Linked DNA regions of Homo sapiens: regions 1, 2, 3 and 5 are each linked to region 4. The links come from fine-mapping of genetic effects on gene expression. A gene starts in region 4. Each other region holds a variant in brackets. All regions are shown on one strand. Distances are from middle to middle. Region 1 has its middle 44 kb from the start of WDR36. Region 2 overlaps CAMK4 (calcium/calmodulin dependent protein kinase IV). Region 3 overlaps WDR36 (WD repeat domain 36). Region 4 holds the start of WDR36 (WD repeat domain 36). Region 5 has its middle 53 kb from the start of CAMK4.

The links.
Region 1: its variant is fine-mapped to the expression of WDR36 in prefrontal cortex (BrainSeq, PIP 0.95).
Region 2: its variant is fine-mapped to the expression of WDR36 in whole blood (INTERVAL, PIP 0.99).
Region 3: its variant is fine-mapped to the expression of WDR36 in whole blood (TOPMed, PIP 0.98).
Region 5: its variant is fine-mapped to the expression of WDR36 in neutrophils (BLUEPRINT, PIP 0.95).

Annotation. Positions count from the first base shown.
Region 1 is chr5:111,133,322-111,138,449 of GRCh38, reverse strand. No RefSeq gene overlaps it. Among named protein-coding and RNA genes, the nearest start is that of WDR36, 44 kb to the right of the region's middle. The variant T/C (reference allele first, on the strand shown) is at 2,016.
Region 2 is chr5:111,360,355-111,365,482 of GRCh38, reverse strand. The region is part of intron 2 of CAMK4 (calcium/calmodulin dependent protein kinase IV); the gene reads right to left. Among named protein-coding and RNA genes, the nearest start is that of CAMK4, 140 kb to the right of the region's middle. The variant T/C (reference allele first, on the strand shown) is at 2,429.
Region 3 is chr5:111,124,436-111,129,563 of GRCh38, reverse strand. It overlaps WDR36 (WD repeat domain 36), which reads right to left. Exons shown (of 23, transcript NM_139281.3): 22 at 3,769-3,956; 23 at 1-2,830. The coding sequence ends at 2,681. Among named protein-coding and RNA genes, the nearest start is that of WDR36, 35 kb to the right of the region's middle. The variant A/C (reference allele first, on the strand shown) is at 2,971.
Region 4 is chr5:111,089,583-111,094,710 of GRCh38, reverse strand. WDR36 (WD repeat domain 36) reads right to left here and starts at 2,363. Exons shown (of 23, transcript NM_139281.3): 1 at 2,093-2,363. The coding sequence starts at 2,254. RefSeq lists an enhancer at 2,074-2,513.
Region 5 is chr5:111,168,328-111,173,455 of GRCh38, reverse strand. No RefSeq gene overlaps it. Among named protein-coding and RNA genes, the nearest start is that of CAMK4, 53 kb to the left of the region's middle. The variant T/ACACACACACACACACT (reference allele first, on the strand shown) is at 3,169.

The DNA.
Region 1 (5,128 bases), 44 kb before region 4:
TTAGATAGTGGCCAGAGGTATCTTTCCCATGCCTCTTTTATTTCCTGATTTAGGTTTTCTGAGGTCTGATGTCTAGAGCTGTGGTAGCCAGCTTGAGACTGTAAAATGACACACATAAGGAAAAAAAGTCTTGTTGTAAAAATGAAACAGAGGAAGTAGGGGAAAAAAAGCCTGTGTCTTTCTCAGGACCATTGAGTAATTGCAACATTGTGAAAAACTACTTTTAGATTTCTTGATGTACGAGAAAAATTAATTCCTACTTGTGAAAATCAAGGTTACTAAGTTGTTACTTGGTCTTGAAAATATTCTTTTTTTTTTTTTTCTGAGATGGAGTCTCACTCTTTTGCCCAGGCTGGAGTGCAGTGGCTCTACCTCAGTTCACTGCAACCTCCGCCTCCCGATTCTTCTGCTTTAGCCTCCCTAGTAACTGGGACTATGGGTGCACGTCACCACGCCCAGCTAATTTTTTGTATTTTTAGTAGAGATGGGGTTTCACCACATTGCACTGGCTGAGAAAATATTCTTAACTAATAGAGAATTGTTTCTCCTTTTAGGAAAACACAGAGCAAGATGTTTTTCCCTCTGTGAAGGACAGTATTTTATTATAGCTGCTGCTGTTTTTGCTACTAGAAGTTTAAGTGTGAAAACTTCCCAGTGTGTTGCGAAGCTGGGCAGCCAAGGGGAGGATTGTCCTACTTTTGACTCCCAACACTTTGTGAACACTATTCTATGCTTGGGGAATTCCCCATTTACAGTCTCTGCTTCCTGAACTCAGAACCCAAAACCTTCGTCTCTCAGCATTGGGTATAGGCCTGAGCCCTAGACTGTTCTAATGCACTAACATTACAATATGTTATGCACTACATATGCATTACAATATGGATGCACTAACATTACAATAGGAGTTGTAAGTGCCATGGAGAAGCAGATGCTGTGTGGACTCTGTTCAGTGAGGCATCAGGGACAGAGGTTCCAGTATCTAGGGCCAGTATCAGCCATGTGAACCTTGGGATGTTCTAGACGTAGTTCTCAGCCACGAAGTCTTCAAGGGACTTGGAAAAACCCTTAATGTACTTAAATAGTAGTTTCTGCTGAAAATAACTAAAACTGGTTCTGAGTAATACATTTCATTATGTTAATTAAAAAATTTTTGTTTATGACCTAATTGTTTTATTCTAAACTTTGCCATCTAGTCCTAATTGAACTCAATAGGTGACTGATCCAACTAAATCTGAGGTTGAATGGAGTTTTAAAACCTGAGACCAGCCCTGACCTCACTGGCTCTCTCAGAGGATGAAGAGCAGTACTGATTCATATTCCATGTCTTGGAACATCAGATTTAAGGCATTTTCAGAGATAAGCATTGGGTATTAGTATATGCTAGCACCTCTTGGTAAGGCTATGTATTTCTCTAACCAATCAATTGGTGCAATGATTCTCAACATTTTTTGTCTAAGGAGCCCTTCACTTTCTAAAAAATTATTGAGGATCTCAGTGTGACATTAATTATATCTGTTGATATTTCCTGTACTTGAAATACTGTGAGTAAACACAGTTTTATGAAAATAGTTTTTAATCATATTTTGCTGACCATCTGGAAATATTTGAAGGACCCCTAGGGAACACTGGACAGACAACTCTTAGAAAACCACTAAATTAGGTATTTATGGAACACTTGTGTGCACAAAATTGAGATGGGCTCTATAGCAAATTTGGACATTTAGCTGATGGCAGACAATGGGAATGAGACTTCCACACTGGCACAAAAGGAGGAAACCAACCCATCAAGGGCATTAGAGATGCAGGCAAACAGTGACAGACACTTTCCTGCATGATCTAAGTTTACCCTAACTGTCTCTGGGCAGTGCTATTTATTGAGGAGTTTTGCTGCAACAAAGGCTATGAAAAAAAAAGGCCTTGTGTTTCATAAAGGAATAATATTTTAAGGATTAGTATTTTTTTAATAGATAAAACTGGTTTCAAGTGACACAAAGTATGGTGTATTTGCTGCATGA[T/C]TGTCATTTCCCAGCAGGATGAGAATGGTAATTTCCATCTTTGAGTTCTGGTAAAGGGTAAAGAGATAAGCTAATGTGAGATTATGTTTTTCTTCAACACTTAGTTCATGTGGAATCAAGTGGATTATTTCTATTTGTCGCTGAGAGTGAAACTCTCCACCCTGATGTTCTTCGTGCTTTCTGGGAAATCTCAGGCAAGTACCACACCATTGAGATGAGGATCTCTTCTGCCAAGAGCCACCCTTTCCACCACTCCCTGGAGAAATCTCTGACTCAGTCAAGCTAGGTGACTCAGAACTCCCTCGGTTCCTCTGCCTTCCAATTCATGCCAGCTGGGCACAGAGAGAAAGAGACAGGGCTCAGTGCTGACCTGGAGACCATCTGCGCCTCATAAAGACCCAATGCCAGGGACTTGCATCGAAATGAATGTGGTTAGGTCAAGTGGTGGCCTGGAATTTTGGGAAAGGTCCAGTGACTTGGGTGGCAAACACAATTGCAGCTTCCAAAGGCCACCTTCCAGAGGAAATAAGATCTGGTCAGCCACACAAGATATATCTACGAAGTAGCATGAATGGATGGATGGATGAATGGTTAGAGATGTGTAAATACATTCTATTTGAAAAGCTAGACAAAAAAAAAGATTGAAATACAATTAAAAAAAACTAAACTAAATATAGAGTATGAAAATATATAGACATCAACACCTAGAATCAATAGTAGTTGATGTTTTATCTTATTTTGTTTAATTTAAAATTACACAAAACATTGCAGATAAAGTCTCCTTTGTACCCAGTTCCAGGGCCACTGACCTCTACACATTCCCAGAGGTAGCAGCTGGCATGACTTTGGCCATCCCTGACTTTCTATTGCCTTTCTCATGGCCTCATCTCTGAATGCTGTCCTGTCTCTCTCTGTAATACCATGCCCCTCCCACCCCCTTTGTTCAAGATCAATGGCAGTTGTCCTCTTTGTGCAGCCTGCCCTGGCTCCGAGAAGGCAGATGTGTGCTGCCTTTCCTCCTGCAAGGCTCATCTCCTGGACTGGGGGTCAGGCACCCTGTCTCATGTGTGTTGGGATCTCCATCTTGCCATACCCCATACACGATTATTTAGGAGGGAATGGGACAGGTTGAGAGAAGCACACAGTTCCACAGGCACCTTTTTCCTCACGTGTTGTAGCTTACATTTTTGAAGTACCTTCACTTCACCTCCTTGTCACCACAGCAACAGAGATGAACATCTCATCTCTGCCCCCTGCCTCCACCTTTCCACGCAGTGTGCCAAGAGCTAAAACTGCACCCAGGCCCCTGGGGGGTGGCCCTCAGCTCCAGGAGCCACGTCTGACAAACTACAAGGCTAATTCCTAGTCTCTGCTTCCCTATGCCTGGCCATCTATTATCAGCCAGAGAATGGAGAGGTGGAGTCTTCCAAGGGAAAAAAAAAACCAGTTTTTTTTCCTCCTTAATTGTTTTACTTCTTCATATGCACTGCTTTTCTAAGTTACCAAGCCCTTTGTTAAAACAAGAATGGTAGTGAAGCAGCATGCAGGCATTTTTTTTTTCATATGGAGGCTATTTGGGAATTCCTGTACACACACACAAACACGTGCACACACGTGTGCGTGCACACACACACACACACCCACGTATGCCACATTTTGAAATAAAGGGAGAAACTCCTGGCAGTCACTCTTTGCAGAGTGTGAAGGCCTAGAAACATCTTCTTCTTTATCTTGATTCTAAAAGAGAGCAAGTCAAAAGGCTAAGCAAAAGAATATAAAAGAATAATGAGCTAAAATACAAGCTTCATAGGACCGGGATTTTTATATGTTTTGTTTTCTAAAGTATCTCAAGAGCATAGAACAGCATCTGAGACAGGGTCAGAGCTAAGTATTTGTTGAAGATAGAATGAATAAATCAATGATTGAAGGAAGGAAAGAGGAGTGATCACAGCGCTGTGAGCTGGGTGGGGAGGCTGTCGGGTATGTGACTCCTTTGTTTGGTATATGATGCTTCTTGTAAACTAAATCCACATGGTTAAGTGAGTCCAGGCTTCGATAACTCACTCTCACCCACCATTCAGTCACCCAATGGGCTTGCATCATATTTACTCTAGAGAATAGAGTGTGGCCAGGAGTGAGGAAACAGGGCCAGAGTTATGAGGCAGACATCATACTTGGAAAGTTCAAATGAGAAAAAATAAATTAATAGTAAAGACTGGAATTTAGCCAGAGATAGTGGGGGAAAAAAAGGGCAGCCAAACAAAACAAAACAAAACAGAACAAAACCCCCGGCTTTGAAATATCCATTCTTGGCTGTGGTAGCAATAAACAATATTGCTAAAAATTGTTTGCAAGGATTTATGGAATTTTTGTGTTTTCAGAGGACATTAAACTATTGTTATCTACATGTCTGCAGTGTCAATAAATCACTAACAACACAGAGATAAAACTAAGTATTGAATATTTTACGTACCTTTTCAGAGACATTTAGTAGATTCAGCTGGAAATGGAAATTAGCATGGTTGGAATTGGGAAATTCAGCATATAGTACACAGATACTGAAAGAAAGATCCCTAAAGAATATTTTATATATCAAAATGATTAAATTTCATCTTGAGCCCTCATATTACTAGATTTAGGGTAGGGAACAAAATTACCAATTAAAAAGTATCTCAGTCTCTTTCACATTAGCCTAGTCTCTTTTGGATAAATATTTTGTGAGATTTTATGTTCAAATTCCCTACCATGTCTGTTTCTTTCCTCACAAAGGAAGGTTCACTATGTGTGAGTGCCTTCTGTGTTGCCAGACCCTCTTCTCACCTCCCCCGACCAGGACCACAGTCCCACTTAGCCTGTGCCCTGAGTCTCTGCCTATCTTCCAGCTGGGCCCTGGGCCAGGATGGTGTGTCCACACTCTGCCACTGGGGCTCTATGGCAGGCCTGTTGGCATTCTACTCCCAGCTGCCTCCCTCATTCCCCTCAGGGAGCAGGTGGAAACCTCCAGATCCCTCCCAGTGTCACCCACAGTCATGGAAACTCTGTGAGCTGTCACAGTCATTTCTTGCCACCTAAGTTAAGTCACACCCCTTGACTATGGCCACCATGTGTCAGGA
Region 2 (5,128 bases), 270 kb before region 4:
ATCTCAACCATTATTCTCCATAATCATTCTTAACAACTTCAACTTTCACATGGATGGTTCATTCAACATTCTTGCCTCTCAGTTCTTTTACCACTTCCTCGATTCTTCCTTAGCAACTCATTTCCATGACAACATCTCAGGCCTTCTTGTTACCATCAACTGAACCACATCACAAATCTTGATTTCAAACATTACACTCTCTGATTTCTACTACCTATCTTTAAAGCTCCTACTTGGCTTAGATTCTATGGTCCACTAGTATATACTAATAATGCCTTGGCCCTGTCCATTGTGCTGAACTCTCCTAGTATTCTTCCTCTTCTTTTACACCGGCTCACTGCTCATCTTCCAGGAAGCCAGGATAGTCTCCACTGTTGGGTCCTTTCACTTGGCACTTGATAGTACTCTGTCTCAGATGCTCTTTTCCCAGATTTTTCAGTGTGAGTTTAGGCTCAACAAAGAAGAGAATGGAAAGGATCACTGCACAGGGTGGGTGACGGTTTAGAGGTGAGGGCAGCAGCAAGCATTGGATATGGTGTGCTGGAACAAGAAGGAGACTGATATTGTAAGGAAAACCAATACTCCATATTACATTTAACACTGACTAACATGAAGCCAACCTTGTTCTGATCAGTATGGGAAGACAGGCTGTAATCATCAGATAAGCTTGTCTTTGAGCATTGTAAAACCCAATATTTTATAGCTCTGTTACTAGCCACTTCCTATTCCCTGCAGACTCTAAGACATTGGGAAGAACAAAAAGAAAAAAGAAGGGATTTCCAATAGAGGAGGAAGCCCAGGATTGAAATAAGAGTCTAGGCAAAACAAGAGTGCCTCTGGGAAGCTTAACCCAGAAAGACACTTCTATTTCAGAACTTGAAGCCTTTGTAAGACACGTAGATTCAGAACAGAGCAGCATCTCCAAAGGGAGTTACCTCTCTCCCTTCATTCTTAGATTCTAAATACAAACCTATGTGCTTGCAGATACCAGAAATTCTTTTCACAGGAAACAGTCTTTTTATTTTGCAATGAATGAAATAGGCTTAAAATATTCCTGGGAGATATAACAAGCTAAACAAAGTTAATACAAAGAATTTGGCTGATGCCCGACTCTCAACAGAAAGAGGTTGGGCTTAGCAGAGGCAGGGAGAAGAGGAAAAGAACCTGATAGATAGAGCAGAAGAAGAATCTTCATGTCTTTACCCAGCACTTTTTTCTCTTGCTTCTTTTATCTGTATCTCCCTGGGATCTAGAACACACGAGCATGATCCTGATTAATAACTCTCATCTTTAAAAAGGTCTCTCAGTCCCTTACCATCCCCTCCCACTTCCAAAGCATATCTCTGCTTCCCTTCACAGAAAACCTCTCTATTGTTGCCTCTGCACTCTTTCTTCACTTCTTCACCTGGGAGTAGAGGAAATAAAATGGATTATTTCATGTCACCATTCTGGTCTGATTTCTCTCCTACTTTAAAGGCAACAGCAATGTTATAATATTTCCTAACTTGCCTCACTGCTTTGATCCTTACCCTTTATATTCAGTCCTTCTACACACAACATCCAGAATGATATCTTTAAAATGTAAATCAGATCATGTTACTCTCAGCTTAAATGCCTTTGTTGGAGTCCCACTGTGCTTAGAGTAAGTATAAACTCTTTGCCATAGACCTTAAAACAGGATGGCTTGGCCTCACCCTATTGGTCTGATGTCACTGTCCTTCATATGCAGGCCATTCAACTAGACCAAGCTTCAAGGCCTTTGCATTTGCTGTTCCCTCTTCCATCAGGCCTCTTTTTTCACTTGGTTCATTGAGAGTCACCTAGAGGCCTTTCCTGGCCACTCCATCAAAAGTAGTTACACACTAACACACATACAACATACACACATACACACACGGTGAGTCATACCATTCAATTTTTTATAACAGTCACAAAAAGCTATGTTATCATTTAGTTACTAATTCATCATCTATTTCTTCCATCGGAGCATGAGTTCTATGACAGAAAGGATCTTGTCTGTTTTCTACATATGCTATCTTTGGCGTTATTTACCAATACCTGGCATTTAATAACTTGTTAAATGAATGAATGAGGTATGGAGGCTGGTGATTGAATACAAAATGCTGGCAGCTCAAAGAAAAAAAATTCTGGTTTAACATTAAGCTTCAGTTAGATGAGATTAGAATTGGTTGGTCAGTTCTCATCCTGCCACTTAAGTCTACATGACATTTTTTCATGTTATTGACACCAGTGGAGTGGAGAATGTCTGTTTCAAAGAGCCTCTAGATTCTCTTTCAAGGTAAGTGAAGAACACTTGGAAAAATATAAATTATTAATGCACAGGTGAAGTTACTGACCTTCTAAATCCACTGCAGCAAGTACTGATACTCCTGCTCACTCTTCTCCCCCATTTCAGGCTATAGAGCTT[T/C]TATAGCTGCCAGATAGAAATCCCGTACTTTTCCTTCCAACAGCACACCTTGCGTTTAATTTGAGTGTTCCATCATTTGTATCAAACACAACCAGAGTGATTAAAAGAGAATGAAATGATAGAGATTAGAAAATGATAATGGTGAGAATTGGAATGTACTATCCATTCTCAAAGAAGCAACTATGATATCCTTGGTAAGCAGAAAAGAATTCTATGGATGTAGCTGTGGATATTTTGACTTGCCTCTGTGCCCTCCATGGGCACAGAGCCTGGCTGGGTCTTTACTCCTCATATTTCCCAAGAAGGTGCCAGCATCAGCATGGTCTTATGAAAAAGAAACTGATTAACAAAGAGAGAATTAATGTTAAGCCTCCCAAATTATTTTTTAAGATTCATGTTGTCAGGGATAGAAGGAAATCAACACATATTATATATTTTTCTAGAAGTATCATAGTCACATTTAAAAATATAGAAAATATAAAAAGAGTGAGGAATATATCCACCATTGTAACACAACTAATCATTAGCATTTTGGTTTATTTGTTTTCAGATATGTATGTATACTTCTTTTTACATTTTCAAATATAAAAATATTTGAAATTTTGTTATCTTTTACACAAAAACATAATAAAAATTTTATGAATATCTAATATCCATAAGCAGAATGTAAAACACCTTCCTAAGGCCCAATGTCATCAATGCCTAGCCCTAATGTTAGACATGAATGATTCCTTAAGATTTATTACTAATATATTCTATAATCAGCATCCTTGTCTGTACATTTTTTAAAGAATTCAATTTGAATCCTGGCTTGATCATTTAGAGTCTTTAATCAAGTCCCTTAATCTATATGAGGACTGCTTCAATTTCATCATGTGTAAAATGGGGATAATTGTTATTCTGGAATATTATTGTTTTAAGGATTGAATAAGAGTATGTGTGAAATTTCCTAGTCCCTGTGAAACGTTCACTAAATGTCAGTGCCTTTCCTAGAATGACTTTTCAAATCAAAGTGAGCATTTCTAATCTTCTGTTTCCAATTTTTTAATTCTTAACAGAGAAGGCACTACAATTGCAGCATACTAAATTTAGAAATATAGGGATTTATGAAAATGTTCCACCCCAGTCAGAGAAAGTATCTACTAAACATGAAACACAATTTTATTTTTATTGTTATTCTAAAAAATTTTCTAAAAGTGAATGACAACTTCATCAGAATCCTAAACTGTATCCTAATATAATCTTCCTGCCTGAGGTTAATCAAAAAGAAAACTAATGCCTATTTTCACTTAAATAAATGCCTTCTCTCACCTTTTCTGAAGACTAAGAGCTGCACTGTCCTGTTTAAACTTTAGGGAGGTTTTAAGACAATTTCATATGTTTACTAATCACTGTCAACCACCAGGGTCACATCTAAGTTGACCATAAACCTGGGTATCAACCATGTCCTTTATATATTCAAGTCTGACAGAGGTGTAATATACTCCGTCCTTTCTTCTTAGTGCCTTTTAGTAATTTTTATATGGTAAAGACAGTAATTTTGGTAATTTTTATGACCATTTCATATGACCAAGATTTTTAAATTATCAAGAAGCCATGAAAATAATGAAATATAGGTTTTCATTGTATATTATTTCAATCAAACAACAATGATTTATGTGCACAATTCCCAAACTTTAATTTGAGTGATTAAAGGGGCACAATATTATATACACTCAGAGACCCTGAGATATTCCTTTGATCTTTTCCTTGATCCTTAAAACTAAGTGATTTTCTATTAGTTACAAAGCCAAAAAAGCTTATGATTTTGTATACTGTTAAATAATAAAAATAAAAATAATACTCCTGAAAGTATTAACATTTTAAGCTTCATCAATTACATCTTAGGGTTCAATGGAAAAAATAAAAACCTGGATGCTCTTAGAAGAAAGCTTAGCTCACTGCCTATTCTTTCAAGGACAATTCAGACCTTTTTCAAAGAACCTGGCTAATGTTGTTCATGAATGCTAAAAACTTGGTGGAAAGAGAGGCTCTCACATGGTTCTTCTAGAGTTATTCATGACCAGAAAAGTACAGAAGAAATTAATGTTGAACCAAAAAATAATATAATCATACTCTTGGTTTAGAATGGGAAAGACAGAGATTCTAGAGATCTTAATGATTTGAGGTTTGATAAAAAAAATTTCTTTGTCAGTGTTGCCCCATAGCAATATATTCTTTCTAGATGTAGAAGTCTAGATTTTCTGAGGTAGCATTTTAACATGAATTGAACCCAGAGCTTCACTTTTCTCTGAAAGACCAGATAAACAAAAGTGTGTCAGCTCAGTCCTTCCCAGCATCTTTCTCCATACAGTGGTGTGCACATCCTCAAAGCACTCTCTCATCAGCATGTCTGTTAAGTCTCTTCTTCTGAGTAAAACTGCTCACAGTTTAAAAGCTTGTAAGAGTTAATTGGGTAGTATGCACACATTCCATGTTTATGCCCTATTATTTCTCCATCTCTGATATTTTCCAAGACTGTCCGGTTTCAAAGGATATGGTGGCCAAGGGGCTTGTGACCCCTGGACTGGTTTGGTCTCTGAGTGTGTGTTCAGTATTTATTGGCCTCTCCCATAGAGCCAGTGAGCACATGATCTGTCCCTAGTCATCTGTAGCTGTAGATTTCCTGACCTATCCAGGTCTCTACTGCAGACAGCATCT
Region 3 (5,128 bases), 35 kb before region 4:
AAATCATTCAATAGAAAAATGAGAGGAAAAAGAAAATTAACAAATGTTTATATGTTCTAAAATAAACATACAAAAATATGTCCATCTTCACTAGTGAGAAATTTCTGATTTAAAACCAAAATAATTTTTTCAGAGTAATTAAATTACAAAAATCCAATAGCAAGTGTCATTAATTACATGGGGAAGCAGATGCTCATATCTTGCTCAGGGGAACTGTAACTTGATACAGCCATTCTGGAACCCAAATGGAAGTATCTCTTCAAATTAAAAATGGTTATACTCTGGCCTGAAATTCAAATCCTAAGCATATACCACAGAGAGAGCCTTATATGTACAAAAAGGGCTCATGTAGGATGATGTTCCTTTCAGCATTGTTTGTAATTATAAAGGAATAAAAAGAAGGAAAACTTCCTTAAGTGTCTATTATAGGCAAAGTACTGTTGGACAGTGCACAAGAGATTAGGTAAATGTGAATGTACCAAAATAAAAAACTCCCAAGTAGAAATAGCAAGTTGTACAATAATATACATACACGTATGTAAAAATCGTAACTATACATTTCCTGTGGCTGTAGATAATATATACACATTCCTACATTAAACACTCATAAAAACACTCTAAAAGAAGATCTAGGAGAGTTAAAACTATTACTTCTACAGAGGATATTGGGACTGAAGATGGTTTTCAAAAAGCACACAAGCAAAATGTAGTCATATATTACATGAGTAATTAAAAAACTGAAAGAGTGTGCACAGATTGATATATTTTAAGGAAAATATAGATAAAATTATATTTTCTATTTCTTTCCCTCCCTTGATGGAAACAGTACATGAAAGGTTCTAGAAGATTACCTGCCAAAATGATGTATTCTATCTAAATATATCTCTGGTAACAATACACTTAAGTCTTTATGCTCACTTTAAAAAGAGAAGAAAATTCGGTTCATGATTTCTGTAAGCAATACAATTTCAGTTCACAGCTCTTATCATTTTGTTTTAGTTATTTACAATCTTTACTAGGTATAGAATTATATATTGGGATTTTGCCATATTCCAATTTAGAATATAGTATTTAGGAAAGAGGAAAATAGTTTTTTAAATTAGAACTTAAGTCATGATTAACATTTCTGTCAGTGGCTTTAATAAGTCAATACACATTTCTAAAAGAAAAACGAAATTGAGTACAATAACCACATTGGCTTATTTCCTTAGTAGTTTATTAATTCTATCTTACATCATTAAATAAAAACATGAATATTAAAAGATATCACTGGTAAATGCCTTTTGAGGACTGCTTCTTTTGGAGATCATTCTACAAAACTCTCTTACCCTAACAACGAACGAGAATGCTACTGGTGTTCATATTCAAACCACTGTGTTTCATGAAAGACCCAACTTTTGAGGGTATAAACTAAGAATAGTTTTTAGAGCGCTATGCTTTAAAGAACTGCTTATTTTTAATTCATGTATTGCAAAAGTCTTGAACCATAAAAAAAACAAAACAATGATGATGAGAAAAAAAGAAAACTCCAGGGCTACCTGGGTTTGCAATGGTTGTGAAAGAAAAGTATACTCAGCATTTTCTTCCCAAATTAAAAGGTCCCCCCCAAAAAAGTGTAGCCAAAAAAAAAAAAAAAAAAACAAAACAAAACAAAATAAAAAAAACCCTGGCTTTGAAATACCCATTCTTGGCTGTGGTAGCAATAAACAATATTGCTAAAAATTGTTTGCAAGGATTTATGGAATTTTTACCTTTTCAGAGGACATTAAACTATTGTTATCTACATGTCTGCAGTGTCAGTAAAAGGCCATCTTCCAATGGAATTTGGAATTTCCCTTACCTATCCTTGGTATCAGTTTAACCATCTACAGCGACTTGCCTTGGGCAAGGAAGGGCCTCCCACATTTCTGATCCATGAACAACTTCCTTTCAGTACATTACAATGGAGAAAGCACTAGGCCACTGTTAGAAAGTTTTAATCTGTCACTGAAATACCAGCAGACTTTAGCCTGATTCCTCTCCTGCAACACAACAGGGCTGTGCTAGAAGATGATTAGTTTATCCTCCAACTCTGAGAGTCAATCATTCATATTTTTATCAAAGGCCACCGAGGAAAAAAGCATTCCTTTTTTCTTCATAACAGCATTTTTATAACTACATCATGTATCAGTTTTATCTGACATTTTCAATTTAATTCAGCAATACTTCACAGTGAACATGCAGCATCTCTTTATATGAAACAGATACTCAAAAAATATAAGCAGGTAATAATTTTTTAAAAATCATATAAAAGTTAATGTGAAGAGACTCAGAAAATAAATCATTTGAGCAGATTCTTTAAGTCTTCAAAACAAAAGGCAGGTGTAATTTATTTTTTTAACTTTTTGTAGAGATGGGATCTTGCTTGCTATGTTGCCCAGGCTGGGCTCAAATTCCTGGCTTCAAGCAATCCTCCCGCTTTGGCCTCTGAAAGTGCTGGAATTACAGGCATTATCCATCATGCCTGGCCGGGAGGTGCGATTTTATTTCAAGAAAGTATTTAGCATTTAAAGTGGAGATATACTGACTAGTCAGTAGTGCTAGCATTTATTTTCTTTTCACATTGACACTTGGAAAATAAGAAATGAGTTCAATTGAACCCATTTAATATGAAAGTCTTTGTTTAGTCACAAATTTATTTTTACAACAAAGCACTTTTGAGATAATTTAAAATACACATGCTTTGATTGAAGAGTGATTGCAAATGGGTCCAGTTTTCTTCCACCTGGGATGACAAATTTGTTATTTCTTCTAGGAGTACTGGCTCTGAAGGAAGCATTTTAAGGTGTAACTGCAAAGAAAAATATGATGATTGAACATTTAAGAAAATTAAAATTTTACCTAATCTGGATTCAATTTTTCTACCAAGGAACCACAAAAGACACTAGGTGAATATTTGTTTTCTTAAGCGCTGGTTTATTACTATCTCCC[A/C]TTTTCCCCTCCTCTATCAAACTTTTTTTATTATAAGGTCCTTTATGATACTGTGACTTCCTTGGTAGAATTAAAGTGGTCATCACTCCTCTCCACCTAAGGACAGTCCTGATACTTTTAAATAATCAGATCAAGTGAACTCATTTTAGGTATAAATGGGATAAAGAATCAAATCTATTATCACCAAAAATCGGCATCATCTACCTCCTTCAACACATTATACCACTAAAGTAGACCCTCAAAACATGAGTTCACCACTATATTAATCATAAAAGTAACAGTCTTATTGTCAAATGATCAAAACTCCTTTAATAATGATAGAAGTGAACATTTTGATTTCAGTAGTAGAAAAAAAAACAAACAAACCCAACTTTCTATTCATAATCACAAAAAACTTCCAAAATGTAACTAACCACTAAAAAAAGAAAAGTTAATGGTTCAGCACATTGGATCAAGCAGATAGCATAAAAATGTCAGGGGGTAAAGTCAAAATTATTGTGCAGTTGAGTAAAAAAACAAAACAAGACTCCCAAGCTGCACTGTCTAGCTGTCCAATGTGGTAGTCACTAGCCACATGCGGTTATTTAAATTTAAATTAATTAAAATTCTATAAAATTAAAAATCCAGTTTCTTGATCACACTATTTACATTTCAAGAACTCAATAGCTACATGTGGCAAGTGGCTATGATACTGGAAAGGATGGATATACAGCATACCCATCTTTGCAGAAAGTTCTGTTAGATAGCACTGCCCCAGAAGAAGACAAGCTGGGCAGTACTGTCTTACATTAGACTTACCTTTAGAAACAATGCAAGGTATGCCTGGGCTAACTCAAAATCACGCTTTCTGTCCAGCATCATCCCAATCATTTTCAAGAAGCTCTGCATAACTTCTATGGACCCACCACAATCAGGAGACAAGCTTCGCAGCTCTGTTTCAATTCCTGATGGGCCTGATTCTTTCAGAAGGTTGAGAGCAGTGTCATCTGCATTAAATTTTAATCCAGTTATGACTTGATTATAATCATTTAACTTAGAAAATTACAGTTTTCCTTTTATACCCCAAATAGGATATATTTAAATGGTACAGGAAATTCTTCCTGTGGGTTAATTTTTTCATATTATGTAGTAGAATGAAACCCAAAATAATTGAAAATCAGTACAAACGATGACACCAATATAAGAGAAAGTACTCAAAACACATTTTTTTTCTGTAATTTAAACCTTTTTCCTGTTAATAAAGAAAATCTAATGCCTTGCAACAGGCACGTTAGAATTTTAAAATGCTCATATATCTTCTCTCAGAGTAAATCCTAATTAAGAAGCCTATAACGATACATACAAAAGTATTAATAGTGGTTAGCATTGGGAATCTGATGAGGTAAAATAATTTTTCTTTTCTATTGTTATAAAGTTATAAAAGTACATAATCATTAGGAACTATATTACTAACAGTACAGAATATATAAAATCAGAGGGGGAAGACCCCATCCCTTATTCTTACCCAGCCCAAACCTACTTCTTTTCCCTAGAAGAATTGTTTCATATGCACCCTAGGAAAACACACTCAGTACACTTACAGCTATTTTTATGAGTCATTTGAGAACTGCAATGACTATGCTTTAGCTTTCTGAAAAAGAGTATCACCAATGACAAAAGTCTAATCACTTTTAGATCCTTCAGTATATAGTAAACAATAGTGTTTTTATTTCTTTGTCTCCCCATAAACATAACAAGTCATTTACAAGGGCTCATCAGTATCATTCTCTGACTTTTGCTAATGTGGACTCAAGTAATCTCGGTATGAAAACAAAAGCATTTGAATCAAAACAAGAGGACAAGTTAAAATTATTAGGAGAGTGACTACAGTTTTTTAAATGATTACAGTTCTTATGGCTAATCACTATTAGCTACAGACTGTAGCCTTCGAAATTTAAATATATGAACACAACAGACAGATTAAAACATTTCCTTTTTAATAAAATAATTTAGGAATATATGAAATCACCTAAGCAGTCCGCTGAATTACAAATTATAAATAAAAACAAAAGACTTGCAAATTACTTGCTACAAAAACGACAAACAAAACTTTTACATTTAATTCACAACAAGAAGGATCTCCTTATTATAAATATAGTCAATAACTGTGTCCATCTCC
Region 4 (5,128 bases):
GTTTTCTATAATGGGCCAAATATTAAATATTTTAGGCTTTGCAGGCAATGCATGTGGTCTCTGTTGCCAACTACTCACTTCTGCCACCGTAGCATGAAAACAGCCATACGTAATAGATAAATAATGTGCATGGGTATATTAAACTTTTATCTATAGATACTGAAATTTGATTTTCACATAGTTTTCATGTCATGAAATATCCTTCTCCCTACCCCCAGCCTGCCCCCACAAACATTTAAACATGTCAAAATCATTCGTAACTCCTGGGTCATACAAAAACAAACAGTGGGCTAGACTGGCTTACAGACTGTAATTTGCTGACCCCAATCATGGCTACTGATCCAGCTGTATGACCCTGGAAAAATAAGCTCCCTGTGCCTCAAATTCTTCATCTGTAAAACAGGTATTTATTTACTTTATGGGATTGTTATGAGGATTCAATGAGTAAATTTGTGTAAAACAGAATGGGGCCAGTCATATAGTAACTGCTCAATACATGATAGCTACTACCATCACTACCACCACCTATTCACAACTTGTCTAGTTTCCCCTGTAGAAGAAACTAATCTGTAGGACTGTAGGAAGTCTGACTGGGGACAGCATATATAGCCATAGTCATGGGATAGAGCACTTGTAGACCCAATTAGTGACTTAGGTTCATTAGCTCCTTTTTTTTTTCTTTTTACTCCCAAGTATTTTCAGTTTTAGAGGTCACAGCCCAATGCATTGGTTAATCTGAGCAGTGTACAGTCTGGGTAAAGAACATTTACATGCCATGATGTTACGAATGTATCATCAGTGTTAGAACTAGAGGAGAACTTAAAAGCCATCTTTATTATGACTAAATGTCAACACACAGTAAGTAAATTGTTAACTTTATAAAATGTACAAATATGTTACTCTCCTCACCACAGGGTTTCTTTGGAAGTAGAATATAGGGAAAAACACCTGTGTCTGTGTGTAATGCAGTGTCAGGAAAGACACTGTACCAAAGACAAGATTTCAAGAGTTATTTCAGTAATAAACTCAGAAAAATTACATTTCAAGGAAGAAAACATTAACCAGCAAAAGCAAAAGTTAGCAAGCAAGGAACAAGTGCAGAGAATGGTAACACTAAATACTTTCACATGATTAATATGGTTCTAACCCACCCTGTCTCCATTACCAGCTCAGACTCTGAGAAACCCAATTGCTCTTCACCTCAGCTCTGCCCTCACTTTCCTTTTCCACTAACTCAACTAGTTCCTACCTCCCAGCTCTTTTTGCTAATAAGCCATTTGATATTCACAATCCTCCAAGAGAGACAACTCTACCTGTTTTCCAGAAAAGAAAGTACTTAATTAACACTGACTATTATCATCCTCCTCATCAAGGTTTCTGTTCTCACAGAGGTTACATTCTTTCGGAGAAGACAAAAGAAACAAGTAAACAAGAGACACTATTACAATGATCGATGAACTGTTATAGGAGAAAAAATCATCACTAACAAGTGATTTATCTGAAATTTACTTTAATAGATTATATAAAGGTGCTACGGTATAATGACACCTATGTTGCAAAGAAACGGCTGCAAGGCTTAGAGTGACAGTGCCAGACACTTTGCGTTAGTTGAAAATAACTGATTGCTATTAGATATTTTCCCTAACGGTAATTAATCTCACCATCTCCGGTTCTCCCAATGTATTCTACCTAGAGTGAATTTCTAACTCAGCTCGTGTCACCAATAACGTAATAGCGTGCATGTTTTTCTCTCTCATTAAGAATGCAAGAGGTAGAGGTTTGTCTTAATTATGTTTCCACCTTCAAGGGAAGGTCAATAAATATTCACTGAACAAATATTACTGCCATACAACTGAGATGTTCTCTAGCAGTTTCCCCTTGGCCAGGCTGCCTCTGAAACACGCCCCAGGAGGACTGCAAGTGCCAAATCAGCACGTGGACGTGACCGGATGGCGAAATATTAATAGGACAGGGAGGGGTTAAAGAAGGGAAGCCCGTGGTAAATGGGAAGGGAGAACCGGACTGCTCCAGGACAGAGTTAGAGGCCAAGGAGGGTGGTTTTCCTGGGAAGCTAACAAAAGAAGTCACTCACGTCATAGGTGTGGAAACTCTTGCCCACGCAGGTTGTTACATAGAACCGGCGCTTGAGCGCGCTGAACCGCACCACGTGTGGAATGTCGTTGCTGAAAAGTCCCAAGGCCCGGAACCCCGCAAAAAGCGCGCTGGCCGTGCGCCTTTCTGAGGCCCGTTCCATTGCCGCCGCGATCCCAGCTCCTCTCAGCTCTGGTCCTGAAGGAAAACACGTACCCAGTCCCTTCAGCGTGTCTAGTGGAACAGTCCTCTGCCAGAGCTGCAGACACAACACCGCTTCCGGCGCCCGCTGCGAATCGCGTTTCCGGAGACTGCCCTCAGTGCAACACATAAAGTTCTCCCTCCAGAGCTCACATGGGAGGCGTGACTTGGGTTCCGAGGGCCAAGGTCTCCAGCACGTTGCCTAGCATTGTTCTCCAGCTCTTTTGCGGTGGAAGGAAGCTCGTTAGGTTCCGACAGAACCGCAAGGGCGGGAAACAAAGAGGGAAGCGCGACGCCCAGGAGAATGGAGGGGAGGTCGACGCCTTGGAGATGGAAACGATTTAAACATGTGATTATTTAAAAATGTACAAAAACATGAGACTGGAAAAATTTAAACACTGGATATCTGATGATATTAAGGAATTATGTTTCATTTTTACATATGATAGTAGCATTATGATTACGTTTTTAAAGATCCTCATCTTTTGGATACATATTGACATATTTACAGATGAAAACTATAATGGGACATTTCAAAACTGACAGAGGGATTCACTCACAGACCCTCTGGGGAGTAGAACTAATTACTTGTGGGGAGGGAACTGCTCACTTGGGCAACTTGGATAAGTGTAGATTCCTCCCAGAAAAGGAAGATAAATATTAAATGTTATTGGGATTCCTGGATTAAGTCAGTATTCCTTGAGGTCGGCTGTCAAAAGCAGACAGTAGAGGTTCTAAAGAGGAGCTTATCATAATGCAAACGGGAGTCCGGGCAGTTCATTAGAGCTGAGTGCCTTAGGATGCTGAAGGAGACTGATTCCAGTGAAGTGGGTGTCAAGACGCCTCACTCCTCAGGAGCCAGCTGCCTTACCAAGATGTAGGTTTGGGGAACAATCTCTGAGCATGTGAACATTAACTAAAACAGTGGTGAGCTTAGAGCCCAGGACCAAAGTTCAACATATGGAATAACCTCTTCTCTTACTGTTTTATTTCCATTTCATTTCGTTTATGAAAACGTTTTGGCAGCCTATTAAGGTTTGGGTCGAGTGACTAACGTAACTATACTAGTACTTGAGAGGGATAAAAAGGGTATATTTACTAATGTAAATGTACTTGAAAGAGATAAAGAGGGTCTGTCTCTACACAGATCAGTGTACTCTCTCGGGTTCCTTCCAGTTCTAAAATGTAATTATTATGAAACAAAAGTCACTTGTTAGCTAATTTGAATACCTGACTCATACATTCTTGAACAAAAAAAATCTTGATTTATTTTATAGTTCTTGGCACAAAGCCTCAAACACTTTGGATGTTAAGATCATTAAGGGGCAGATGCTAACAGAATGAGAGCTTGTTATTTAGTCCTTGACATGTTGTACTTACTTGTATTTTCATTTGTACCCCGGATTTCTCAATAGCAGTGCACATTTTCAGCCATGTTTTTGGTATGACTTAAAAGTGAACAAGTTGCTAATTATTTGTAAATGTTCTTTAAATTAAAAAAGAGGGGAGAGGGGAGGAGCCAAGATGGCCGAATAGGAACAGCTCCGGTCTACAGCTCCCAGCGTGAGCGACGCAGAAGACGGGTGATTTCTGCATTTCCATCTGAGGTACCGGGTTCATCTCAGTAGGGAGTGCCAGACAGTAGGCGCAGGTTAGTGGGTGCGCGCACCGTGCGCGAGCCGAAGCAGGGCGAGGCATTGCCTCACTTGGGAAGCACAAGGGGTCAGGGAGTTCCCTTTCCTAATCAAAGAAAGGGGTGATGGACGGCATCTGGAAAATTGGGTCACTCCCACCCCAATACTGCGCTTTTCCGACGGGCTTAAAAAACGGCACACCACGAGATTATATCCCGCACCTGGCTCGGAGGGTCCTACGCCCACGGAGTCTTGCTGATTGCTAGCACAGCAGTCTGAGATCAAACTGCAAGGCGGCAGCAAGGCTGGGGGAGGGGCGCCCACCATTGCCCAGGCTTGCTTAGGTAAACAAAGCAGCTGGAAGCTGGAACTGGGTGGAGTCCACCACAGCTCAAGGAGGCCTGCCTGCCTCTGTAGGCTCCACCTATGGCAGCAGGGCACAGACAAACAAAAAGACAGCAGTAACCTCTGCAGACTTAAATGTCCCTGTCTGACAGTTTTGAAGAGAGCAGTGGTTCTCCTAGTACGCAGCTGGAGATCTGAGAACGGGCAGACTGCCTCCTCAAGTGGGTCCCTGACCCCTGACCCCTGAGCAGCCTAACTGGGAGGCACCCCCAGCAGGGCACACTGACACCTCACACTGCAGGGTACTCCAACAGACCTGCAGCTGAGGGTCCTGTCTGTTAGAAGGAAAACTAACAAACAGAAAGGACATCCACACCAAAAACCCATCTGTACATCACCATCATCAAAGACCAAAAGTAGATAAAACCACAAAGATGGGGAAAAAACAGAACAGAAAAACTGGAAACTCTAAAAAGCAGAGTGCCTCTCTTCCTCCAAAGGAACGCAGCTTCTCACCAGCAACTGAACAAAGCTGGACGGAGAATGACTTTGATGAGCTGAGAGAAGAAGGCTTCAGACGATCAAATTACTATGAGCTACGGGAGGACATTCAAACCAAAGGCAAAGAAGTTGAAAACTTTGAAAAAAATTTAGAAGAATGTATAACTAGAATAACCAATACAGAGAAGTGCTTAAAGGAGCTGATGGAGCTGAAAACCAAGGCTTGAGAACTACGTGAAGAATGCAGAAGCCTCAGGAGCCGATGCCATCAACAGGAAGAAAGGGTATCAGCAATGGAAGATGAAATGAATGAAATGAAGTGAGAAGGGAAGTTTAGAGAAAAAAGAATAAAAAGA
Region 5 (5,128 bases), 79 kb before region 4:
GCTCTCTTCTTTTCTCCTAGTTTTACTTTCCTTCATTGTGCCTTTCTTCTTATCATTCTCACTCACTTTCCTTCATCTTTATATTTCTCCTTTTATTAAGAACATTATCTTGCGTGATATTCCAACAATACTGAATTATTGTGACTCTTCAATGTCTTCAGCATTGACCCACTCAAGAACAAAAAACAGACCATCAGTCTTATCTCAAGATTCTAGCACCGAGGTAGGAAGAAGGCTTAAGTCCCTGTTGGTATTAACTTATTCCCCTAGTTTATCTACTTGTGGATGGCTCTTTAAAGAAACTCACATTATTATTAGGTGGTTTTTGTTTTTTGTTTTTTTTTGGTATGGTGTGTTGATAAGTTTTACAGAGTCTGTGCTCTGATTTTGCCAGCAAATTAATGAGATAAACTTAATAAGGTCTTTAACAGGGTGGAAACAAATTGCTGGGAGCCTATTTCTGCTTTTAAAAACCCTTTCCAAGTGTCTTCAGGTAATAAAAATAAACATTAGAAATAACTAGGAAATCAATGGAGTTTGGGGGACAGTTAAGAATCGAAACCATTTTTTCAGTAAATTCTCAAGATAACAGAAATGCCTAGGTAAAGAAAAAAACTGAGGTGTGGACTGGAGAGAATCAAAACAACATAGTTCTATGTATCAGCTCTGAAGTTTGCCACATGTTCTGACCTCATTCCAAGGTTTAGAGGACAAAATAAATGGGGGTGTGGCTTGGGGGTGGGGCTTCAAAAGCTGTGTGTGTGACAGGTTCAAACTCTCTCAGGGCTGTTGTTCTGTGGACTGAAGCCCCACCCCAACCTCATTGCTAGGAAAGGAGGCAGCCTAAATCAACAATAAATACCGATTCAGCACCCTGGGGCATCAGCCCAGTTCCACTCTTAAGCATTATAGCCGAAAAATAATATTCTGATTTCCATATAAGAGAAGTAGGGGTTGGCTAAATTCCAGCCCTGAAATTCACAGACACAGGGTAGCACTAGCTAAAAATTAAAGTTTTTAAAAATTTTTTAGTATTTTTTTTGTTTAATGAGTACAGTTCTTCCTAGTTGTACCTCATCTTTTTGCTCAAAAACAAAGCTTAGTAAAATCCCCTGACCTCAAAGCTAAGACTGCCTTGATAAGCAAATTTTAATGTACACTCAAACCCACAAAATGTTTTTATTTCTTTAAGTAAAAAATGAAAAGATGGTTGGATAACCTAGGACCAGTGATGGGAATGTGGAATAGAGAAGTTGATGTTCACTTAGGAAGGTCTTGGTAAAAGGAGGCAGAAAAGAGGGTTAGGAGAAGGTAAGGAGTAAGGGGCATAAAGAATAAGTCACTTAAAATAACCCTAATGCAAAATAGTGCTGTCAGATTTCTGGTTTATATTAGAAATATAATATAACATGTGTAACTGATTCCCATGAGAATAGGTTAATTTACAAAAGAGTCACCTGACCTGGAAAACAAATTTAAAATCGTGTTTGAAATTTGCATTATTAAGAACTGATAGCTTAACATTTCTTCTGCACTTCCCATTACTTAATCACTGCTAAAAGTACATGTACAGTTTCTCTTGAGATCTAAACCAGTGTTCGTGCAATTTAACAAAACCACCAGCCTTGTATTGCTGGAAACAAAACCTAGAACATTTTCTAAATCATAATGATTTCTAGGTTTGCCCGCCTGATTATGGTAGGGGTTTTTGTAACGAACCATAGATTATTACCACAACCTATGTCCCAGTGCCTAAATTATGCACATCCATATTTTTCTCGAGAAATTTAGATCTTCTACGTTTTCTCAAAAGCAGATGCTTTTCTTCTTAGACAATATTTTGAAACGTATTCACAAGACCCTTAAAATAGAAGGGAAAAACCAAAAGTGTGCATTTTAAGAGATGTATTGCCATAGTTCTTAATTGCAGGAGAAAGACATTCTGGTTATTTAAGAAAAAAAGAATTTATTGTAATAATCTTGCATTGATCTAAGAATCTCAGAGGAAGATGGAGAAGGTGCTCACAAGCTATGCAGGCAGAAACAATACTTAAAATAATCCAGCAGAAGTGGTCTGCTTGGAACACCAATATCATCATTACTGACATATGCACTAAGTACTTCAGTTTGTACTGCCAATATCACTAGCACTGGATTCTGGACACAGCCATAGCATGACTGCCATGGCTGTCCTGAAAACTCCATCTCACTGCAACCACTGCTGCTGCCAGAGGTTTCTCGAGTTTCCCATGCTCTACGTTACTAGCTTGCAACTTACAGATGCATTTGATTAGAGAGCTACATCACATGCTCACACTCTCAATACAAGGAAGGCTGGGAGAGAAATACGTAGCATCTTCAACCTCTATATTAGGAGATGGCTTCTCCTCCTACCAAAATGTATGAGATGAGGAATTCTTCAAACATAGGAAGAAGGCTTAGATGCTGGGCAGGCAAAAAGAATGACAAATGTCTAAGCAAAAAAGATAAGGTTATACTACTATATCTGTGCACAGTCCTTTGTGATCTCTTTCATGAGCTCCTCTTCTACATGTTGCTGCTTCCTTCTTTGCTCTCTTCTCTGATCTGCACACACACTCTTGTGATCTCATCTACTCTCACAGTTCAATGGCTCTTAAATATAACTCTTTAGCCACCTTCATTTACTTAACTGTAGCAGAGACTGCTCACCGTCCACCAAAATCCATTATCTTCTTCCTTCATAGAAATGGAATTGCAAGTTGACATAGACGTTCCCAGACATACAGAATTTCCCAGTCTTTTTTGACATTAGTTGTGACCACGTTCATTTCTCCTCAAAGGAATGTGAAAAAATGTGTGTGCCATTTCCAGCTCTGAGACTTAAGATGTCCAGACCTGTTTCTTCCATGTTTCATTTTCTTTCCTCTTTGCAACATCTGGAATCTATGGAACCCAGCCTCAATGCAGATGATGACAAGGCTTTAAGGAATGGAAGAGCAACCTAGGAACCTGGGTTACTGAATAAGAAGCAGAGCTACGCACCAACCTGGAATGCTGACCTTGAACTAAGGTGTAAGAAGCTGTATTTAAAGGCCTATCTCAGGTAAGCTACTGGATTATTGTCAGTTATCTTTTTAAAGCTGTTTAGTCTTATGCTAACACACACACACACACACACACACACAC[T/ACACACACACACACACT]CTCACAAATTTACCATCTCTCTTAATAATACAAACCTTGGGTTGTCCTAGACCCCTCCTTCTCTCTTGCTCTCCAAATTCAACAAATCACTAAATTGTGTTATTTATACCCCATTGAACTATTTCTTTCTCTAAATCCAAAGCTACCACTTCAGTTTGGGCTCTTAGTTTATTGTTCCCAATGTGCCTTTGTTTAGTTGTCCTGTGTGTATTAAATGTCTTCTCTCTCTTTCTCTTTCTGTTTTTAGAGATGGAATCTCACTGTATTGCCCAGGCTGGACTCGGACTCCTGGGTTCAAGCAATTCTCCTGCCACGGCCTCCCAAAGTGCTGGGATTACAGGCATGAGCCACTGCTCCTGGTTTGCTCTCTTTCCTCTAGCTATTTTTTAAAGTGTTAATTTAATTTAATTTTAAGTTCCGGGATACATGTGCAGGATGTGCAGATTTGATATATAGGTAAACGTGTGCCATGGTGATTTGCTGCACCTATCAACCCATCTCTAGCTATTTTTACTCATCTTTCAGAACTCAACTTAGTTACCATCTTCAACCAGGGTCCCCAGTGATGTACAAATGTTCTTCCTCTGTGATCCACTAGCACACAGTGGCTATCTCTAGCTTAGCTATTGCCCTAAAACATTGAAATTAACTATAAATATGAATAAGTAGGCTGTAAAAACCTTGAGGCAGAGATTGCATCTGTCGATAGAATGACTATATTCCACTATTCAGATGTATAAAGAAATAATGACAACTTCACTCCCTTGCAATATCAGCCTTGCTGCTTGCCTAACACTGAGCTCCCTATGGGAGATTGCAGGAAATGCAGATACCTTTTATTGTGCATGAGAGCAAAGACAGACTCAGAGAGCAGTACTTTTGTCTGTTTCTTTACCTAAATCTCTCCCTTAGCCGCTACTAATCAATTATCTACAAAACAGTTTGAAGTTTTCTAGTCTTCCAAAAAAGCAAGGAGTAAGCCACTTATCTCTGGGACTGTCCCATTTTTTTCTGGGGATACTAACCACATTCCAGGGTCTTGGTCCAGGAGGGAGTCACACTGTTTTCTGACTTTCTTTTCTGTGTGAATGGAATCCTCCTTGCATTCTGTTTACATTATCTCTTTAAATTAATTCTAAAATCTGGAATCACATCCAGCTAGTCTCTTCATATATAAAAATAAAATGTGCAAAGAAAATTTGAAATTTACAATTCCTCTCACACAACAAATACTGGATTTCAATATTATTATCCTGATATAGATTGAAAAACTCTAATTTGGATATTCAAAAATGACTCCTTTGCATGCCTACCCTAGTGCTTATCTTCCTAGAGAATAAAGAGATGTCTCTGACAGAAGAGCAGTTCTCTCACTAGGGAAAAATACACGAAAACATTTTTCTTAGGTTAATTCCCAAGAGACAGAATCTGAGGTGGAGAATTGTGTGCAGGAAGTTTACTAGGGAGTGGTCTCAGCCACAATCTCATAGAGGAAGCTGGGGAAGCAGAGGGAGACATGGAATTGCTGTGCAGTTGCAATTAAGCCTTCAGTCATTCCCATGAAGTGCTCTGCAGCAAGAAATCAGAGAAATAATGAGAATGGCTTTAGGTTCTCATAAGGCAAGTGTGGTAGATTATCTTTTCCAAGATGGCCCTAACAATATTTCTCATTCTACATGCGTTTTTGCAATGTTACTTCTCCCACTCTGCCATTAGGAAATGAGATCTGTTTCCCATACCCTTGAATCTGGCTGGATGACCTGAAGCAGAAGTGATGCCATATAACATCTAAGGCTGGGCCTTAAGAGATCCCTGCCTTCTGACTTCGCTACTGAGAATAGTTCTCCTTGGAAACCAGCTACCATATAAGAAATCATGCTACCATGAGACCACCATTTTGTGAGGAAGTCCAAGCTACACATATGAAGAGAAACAGGATACAAGAGAAGCACAAAAATA